Linked DNA regions of Homo sapiens. The protein of the gene in region 1 interacts with the protein of each later gene in a biochemical or structural test. Each region holds a gene or a part of one and is shown on either strand. Other genes may lie near its edges.

What was found. Proteins that work in one complex are often made in the same cells at the same time.
Region 2: the proteins of DSCAM (region 1) and PTPRM interact in a biophysical measurement, tested with the Homo sapiens proteins (one large-scale study listed by IntAct).

Annotation. Positions count from the first base shown.
Region 1 is NC_000021.9:40,844,359-40,848,366, reverse strand, and holds the start of DSCAM (cell adhesion molecule DSCAM isoform CHD2-42 precursor), read left to right. Parts: upstream 1-1,208; 5' UTR 1,209-1,705; coding exon 1,706-1,748; intron 1,749-4,008. UniProt on the Homo sapiens protein: Cell adhesion molecule that plays a role in neuronal self-avoidance. Promotes repulsion between specific neuronal processes of either the same cell or the same subtype of cells.
Region 2 is NC_000018.10:8,378,816-8,382,315, forward strand, and holds part of PTPRM (receptor-type tyrosine-protein phosphatase mu isoform 1 precursor), read left to right. Parts: intron 1-351; coding exon 352-525; intron 526-1,480; coding exon 1,481-1,612; intron 1,613-3,500. UniProt on the Homo sapiens protein: Receptor protein-tyrosine phosphatase that mediates homotypic cell-cell interactions and plays a role in adipogenic differentiation via modulation of p120 catenin/CTNND1 phosphorylation.

The DNA.
Region 1 (4,008 bases):
AGCCAGATGCAGGGACAGAATCAGGCCCATCCCCTGCCTTCCTGGGTTGCATTTGGGAAGGACCAGGGACTGAGCACCCAGCATTTGCAAAGCCAGAGGATGCTGGTTCTGGTGCGTGGTACTGGGGGCTGGGCCTGCGCAGCCTGAGTGGGCGGCAGCACGTGATCACCTGCAGCTGCAGAGCCGTGGTGAGCCAGGCAGCATCACCGGCTCAGCTGACCCTTCCTGGTACACAGGGCCTGGCCATCTTGTGCCCAACCCTGGTAAAGCACCATTTTGTTTCTGCCTCACCATTTGCTTCTCCTGTGTTTTGTGAGCTGTCTGAGATGTGCATCATTCTTCTGTATTTGGAGGGGGACATGGAGCCCAGTTAGGATACCTAGTGCCTAGGAAAAAGCCTACTCAATTTCCCTTGAAAATGTCTCCCTTGACCCCCACCGAATGCTTTTTTTCAGTCCTGATTGTCCTGACTGTGAGCATTCCATCCTGGCTTCTACACTGGGGTGCATTCCAGCCCTGTCGGTCATTATATTGCAAAGTGATGGATAGATGTACGCCCTTGTGAGAGCTTTAATTTAAATATTATCATGACTTCAAGAATCATACAGAACATTCAGGAAATGTTAACATATTGACTTTTCACAGAAACGTGAAAGGGGCTATATGTTTGGGATTACTCAAATTATCAGCAATTTCAATCAGCTTTTTTATGCGCCATTCAGAGAGCAAAATTAGAAGTGCTTGTGTTTGCATTCTACCATGTATTCAAGATAATTAAAAATTAGCCCGTGAAATCATAGAGATCTTTACAGTAGCAGCAAGGATTTGGAAGGAGCATTTCCCTCTAAGCAAATGAACTGGACTTTTCTGAGAGTAAATACGGAATCGGAATCCAGCTGCACATTTTATTAAAACTACGAGCATTTCATGTTCACCTCTCCGTGGCTGGCCACCTTCCGCAATAGTCACCCCGGCCATCCCTTATTAGCAACCGGCAGGAAAATAACTAAAAATAAGCAGCTGTTGAAATGATTATTTAAGCCTCTAAGAAATTCCTCCTGATGACTGTGCGTGACTGTGCGGTGGCTGCGCTCTCCCCGGTCCTGCCTCAGTTCGGCTGCACGTCTCTGCTGCTGCTTTAAGACTGCAGAGCGCCCCAGCGGCCAGAGGCAGGGGAGGGGTCCCTGCTCGCCTCCGCGCTCGGCTTCACTCGCCCGGCTCGCAGGCAGGGAAGGTTGGCAGAGGGATCCATGTGACTGAGGCCGGAGCACGGCAAAGATGAGCCTGCCCGCCCGCCTGCTGCCTGGATGCGGAGGGTGAGGGCTGGCGCACGGGAGGCCGCTGGCTGCGCATTCTGGGCGCCGAGTGCCCGGGATGAGCTCACGCCCGCGTCTGCGGCTCTCTCCACCTGCCGACCTGCCGGGGGCCCACTGAGCTGACGGCGCACCTGGGCTCCGGCCGCAGCGTGGGGCGCGGCGCCCGGGAGCAGGTGTGCAGGAGCGCAGCGCGCGGCGAGCGCAGCCCTCGCTCCGGAGCCCGGCCGCGCCGCGTGCCCGGGCGGCTAGGCAGCGGCGGCGGCGGCGGCGGGCGGCGGGCGGGCGGCGGCCCCCGGGCAGGTGCCGAGCGGCGAGCGGAGCCGGGCCGGGCGGAGCGCGGGGGGCGAGGCCGGCGCGTCGCTCGCGGGAGGCCGGGGAGCGGCAGGGGCATGTGGATACTGGCTCTCTCCTTGTTCCAGAGCTTCGCGAATGGTGAGCCTTTCGGTTTGTGATGAATTTCGTTTCCTTATCATTGACCGGGGGGGCGGGGGGGTGGGGGGTGGCATTGGATGCATGGGTAAAGTCTTCTTTCTTTTTCCGCTTCATCTGTGTTTAAAATTTCGTGCTTTTATTTATTTTTTAAATATCATATTTATTTTTTGGGGGAGAAGAGGTGGCAATGGAGAGGCCCGGGAGAAATTGCTCTGTAATCATTGGAAGGCGCTTACCTAGCCAAGTGACAGCTCAGAGCCTAACTCCAGTACTAGAGAGCTGCCTCATTCAGAATAAACCAGGTTTGGTGACAGAAGGAGAGACAGGAAGATTGCCACTTTGAATATTACAACCTGGAAAGGGATGTGACATTCCAAGTGCACGCAAGTGGAGGGGTCAATGAGGAACATCTCCCTTCAGATTCAATGCTTTTTGAGATTTTTCAAACACGTAATTTCATGCTAGTACAATGTATCTCCAGCACCAAGGAGGGCTTTAAGAATGTTCTGTCCTTCTATGCACCCCGTGCTGCTTCATGCTCCTCACAGTCGTTTATGTAAAAATATGCACTGATAAGCATTACATCATCTGAAATGTTGACAAATTAAAAAAAAAAAAACACCTGTATAGTTGTAAAAATGAAATCAGTGAATATTGTAAATAGCATACATTTCCTCATGCCCAGCCAATATTATATTTTGAAATGATTTCTTCCTGGGTATTTAGAAAGCTATTGCTCTTGACTGAGTCAGACCCAATTAGTAAGTGTGACTGCACCTTAGGCTGCCTGTCACCGCATAAATATGAACTTACATGTATGAATGGCTTCCTCTCTTGTGGGAACCAGAGGAAATTGTCATCATTTGACATCGCCTGGGAGTAGCTACGGCTTAAATTCCCATTTCAAATTTTGGAACACACATCTGCATAAAATGTATAACCTACTGACAGTTGAAATTAAACCATTAAGCAGAATCCCCTAGCCAGAAGAGAGGAGAGAGAGAGAGAGAAAGAGAGGAGGGAGAGAGAGCGAGACAGACACAGAGACAGAGAGAGAGAGAGAGAGAGAGAGAGAGAGGAGAAGAAGAGAAGGTAAAAGAAGAGAAGAGAGGAAATCTGGCCCTTGTGAGAAAATACGAGAAGCAAAGGGGAGGCTCTAAGATTTTCCTGGAAGACACACAGGGAAGCTCTGTGTGTTGGCTGCAAGGCAGTGCATTTTCTTTGCCTACCTAGACAGTGCCTAAAGAATCAGCATACCAACAGGCCAGAAGAAATGCATGAGCATTGTCAATTTTTTAAAAAAACGGTGACTAAGAAAAGGTAGAGTTGAAAGAAGGTACTATCAAAATGAACATGAAAATGATACTTTGCTCTCCAGTATAACCTAAAGCAAAGTGTTTGAAACTTTCATTTTGAGATTTCCTAGCAGGAAAGAATTGCAACAAGTTCTGACAAGACACCCATCTTTCCCAGAGGGCACCATACCTGTCCTGTGTCCTCCTGGGAATTTCCCTTCAGGGACAGATGTGCTTAGGGAACATGCGGAGATGTGTCGGGGAAGTCAGCCCTTTCTGCTCTTCTGCTAATGCGACCTCCTAAGAAATGTAGAGATGCCTACACATGTGTTCCAAAGACACAGAGCCTTGACACCCTGTTTCGCCTGTCAGGGAGTACCTTTCTGAACTCCTTGGAAAGGCCTGGGTTATAAGAAGAAACAAAATTTGCACCCCATTGGGAAGTGTGTGTTTCAGGATGATGAAAGAGGCTGTGCTGGTTGTCAGTCAGCCAGTATTTATTTACAGTTTTAGCATTTTGTATGACAAAATGGTATGGAAGAATTTATGATACTGATACAGACTATTAGCCTCTGATACAGAGATGCTATATGTGTGTGTGACTTTTTTTCTGAATCAGCATTTTATAACTAAAATAAACAATCATAGAAATAATTATATATGGTAATACAATTATATGAAACCTCAAATATTCTGCAATATGAAAAATATATGCAAAAATTATGTAGGTACTCATATAGTGAGTTCTGCAAGTATTATTTTCAAGACTTTTAAAATCAACTGATAATCACCATTATTGTAATAAATATAGGTAGATTCCACAATATTAGACATAAACAGCAAACACAAATGAATATTTTACATTGCTGTATTACGTATTCTGATCCAATCTAGCAGAAGGCTATGGAACTGTCTTGTATAAAAATGCCCCTCTCTTTATATGATCAAGGATGAAAACATTAAAA
Region 2 (3,500 bases), on another chromosome or scaffold:
CATATGCATTTTGTCCAGATGTACCCGAGTCAAGGCCAGACTCTTCCCCCACCTCTGACCTCCCAAATCCCCAGGTGCCTCACTCCACTGGGACTTGAGGGCTCTTAATTCTAGGGACCCACAGTGGCCCTTACGCCTCTGCCTCTGGCCCCTGTGTCTGATGGGCACTGTCAGTGGACGAAATCCAAGGAGCAAAAGAAAGAAAACTCGAACTATGGTGGGTTGGGGAGGGAGGGGGAAGGGACCGTCTTGCAGTCAGCCACAGGAAGTTTGCATCTTTCGAAAACTGCACGTGAGAGGAGTCCGCTGCCAAGGCTTCTTGTCCTCATGTTCCTTTCTTTTCTCACGCAGACGCTAAACATGGTGACACCAACGCTGCGAGTAGAGGACTGCAGCATCGCACTGTTGCCCCGGAACCATGAGAAAAACCGGTGCATGGACATCCTGCCCCCAGACCGCTGCCTGCCCTTCCTCATCACCATCGATGGGGAGAGCAGCAACTACATCAATGCTGCCCTCATGGACGTGAGTGCCCCGCTTCCCGCACGGGTCCGAGGCTGGGGTGTTTGGGGAGACTGCAGAACAGGCTTGGGTCTTCCCCATTCTGCTCACCAGCCCTTTTGTTTTTTAAGACACAAACTTTTTTTTCCAACAAAAAATAGATTTCAGATTCCACGTATGTTTTTGTGTCGGGGCTGATATCCTTCGTTTCTCAAAGACCACCAGGCCAGGAGTATCCGTAAATGCAGCATGGCACAGTTGCCCTCTGAGAGCTGAGACTTTTAACCTGCTGGCTGGGGAACAGGGGACACCATGGCAGGAAAATGGGTTAATAGATTTGCAGCATTATTTTAGTTCATTTTCCTGTAATTTAGCCTGCAGTTAACATAGGGGAAAGTTCAACTCATTACTTCCTGCCAGTCTGTTTTCTTATTGCTATTCCGTTGATGCAAAGAGTGAATGGGTATGTTCTGTGCTAACACGGAAATTTTAATTCTGTTGGTGTCATATCATAAAAGGTACCTGAACTTTTTTGAAGCTCTTCAGAGCTGTAAAAAAAAAGTACATGTATTCTTTACGGCAGAAATAAGAACACTGTCACACATACAAATTGCTAGCAAACAAGTTTTAGAAAAAGCAGAACTTTTAATTATGTGTAATTTTAAAAGTAAAGTTAAATTTTCTCCATCAAGATAATTATGTATAGATTCGATATTGCCTCTCTACCAGAAATATTTTAAAAATTGATAAGAGATACTAATTAAGTTTTCTTGGTATCAAAGTAAGACTTTTATCACTATTATTCTGCAGAGAAGTTTATATTTAGTCTATGTTGGTGCTGACAATGGTGACAGAATTCAACAGCTGTTAAACATGTTCAGTGTTTTGTGCCACAAGCTTCCTTCTGCATGAAATAACCTAGCTTCTTCTCTTCCCATTTTCCTGAGTATATTTGGAGCATTCTTGTTTGTGTTTGCAGAGCTATAAACAGCCTTCAGCTTTTATAGTCACCCAGCATCCTTTGCCAAACACAGTGAAAGACTTTTGGAGACTGGTCCTGGATTATCACTGCACATCCGTAGTTATGCTAAATGATGTGGATCCTGCCCAGGTGAGACCCGGACTTCTTACAGTCAGAACTAGTGCCAGGGGGTCAAGTTTGTTTTTACACTGAGTTTGTTTGCACCCGAGAAGTGCAGGCCCTAGTGCCAGATCTCAAGTGCCAGTTGAAGTTGAGAACTGGGGATGCTGAACACAACGGTTAAAAATCAGGCGGAATTAGGGGTTAGAAAGTCAGTTGAAACCAGAAATACAGGCTGAAATCATAGATGGTTGAGGTGACAGGGCAAGACACGGCCAGAAGTTGAGCTGTTCCTAAAAGATGGAAATACTCACTGGAGGTTGACAAGGTCGCAGACCGAGTTGGAGCTCAGCAGGAACCTGAACATCGCAGAGCCAAAGCAGAATGAGCAAACCAGAGGACAGTGGAGAAGGGAAGATAGCGTTTGACCCAGCCCAGATCCCATTCCTGGAGTGACTGTGTGCTTCCTGGCACAGCTCACCGGGAGCCTACAGGTAGAGATCGTCATGCAGGGCAGGTAGAGATTGTCATGCAGGGTGACAGTGTCGGGGTGACAGCAGAGACAGGCAAGCAATTTTAAGGCACAGCAATTAGTTTTCTCAATGCTTTAGTAAAGATATTAAAAAGAAATAATACTGGGACTTGGAGATAAGAGAAGTTTGGAATGATAAATGGGGCTTTTGCATAGTTACTCTTAAACATTAAAGAGAAAGAATTGGACAGTGATGACTCAATGTTAGTAATGGAGTTAGACACATTTTCTTGAAGCAGGTTGTCAGGCAAGCATTAGCACAGTGGTCCTTTAGGAGATGAATTTATTGCTTTGGGATGTGCCTATACCAATCATAGACAACCACCATGACAGTAGGCATTATGGGAAGTTTGACCTTAGCGTGTTTTAAGAAAAAACTTGTTCTGGAAATGAATTAATTTCCTGTCCAGTAGACACAAATTCTTTTTCTTAAAAAAAAAAAAAAAAAAAGTCTGAAGCATTTCGGCATCCCAACTGGACATGATGGCAAGATTTTTCCTTCCTACAATCTGTTTTCTTGCCATCATCCAGCCATAAATGGCATGGACATTCAATTCAGTTCTATAAGGTTTTTAATTATGTCTGAGGCACTGCATTATATTGTCAAAGCTCTTGCCTGAAAGCTGGTTAATGAAATAGTAATGATAATCTTTGTTCTTATCCAGTCCTTTTGGCTTAAGAAGCTTAAATATTTTAAAACTCTTCCCCACTGATGCTCTGAGAAGGTTAGCTTACAGTCATTTATAAAGACAAGCAGACACCACGGCTTGTGAAGCTTCAAAGACCCAACTCAAAATAGAACCAAGGGTCCTGATTTTCTCACTTACAGTGGCACGGCCGAAATTTCACTAATTCTAGAGTCTTAAGTTGCAGACACTTATAGAATAAGGGACTTCTTCCTTATTTAGAATCATGATGGTTTTTTTCTTAATGTGAATCCTGAAATGTGGAGATATTTTTGTTCATATTAGTGAACAAGACATCAGTGATTCTAGTGCATTCTTTTTGAAAAACTGCATTGGAATTCTAAAGCCGCATTCTAAACCCGAACTATCTGGACTCAAACCAAGCCTTGGCTGGCTCATGGGTAGGAGAGACAAAAAGACTCCAGTTCTATTCAGCAGACAGAGCTGATTTTCAGAGTGAGAGAAAAGAGGCTCCTGGGATTCAGTCTTTTAGCGAACACTAAACTGAGCATTTGAATGTAAAGGCTTTGCAATTCTACAAGAATAGCACTCAACTATTTTAAGTATTTATAGGTCCGGTTCACGGACGTGTTATGCACCATTTAAGCCATTTTCTACATGGTTTACTTGGGCAGAGCATAGAATGCAATGTGCCAAGAGGCAAGTGCAACCCACGTCACTCATATTTCTTTGGTGTAAG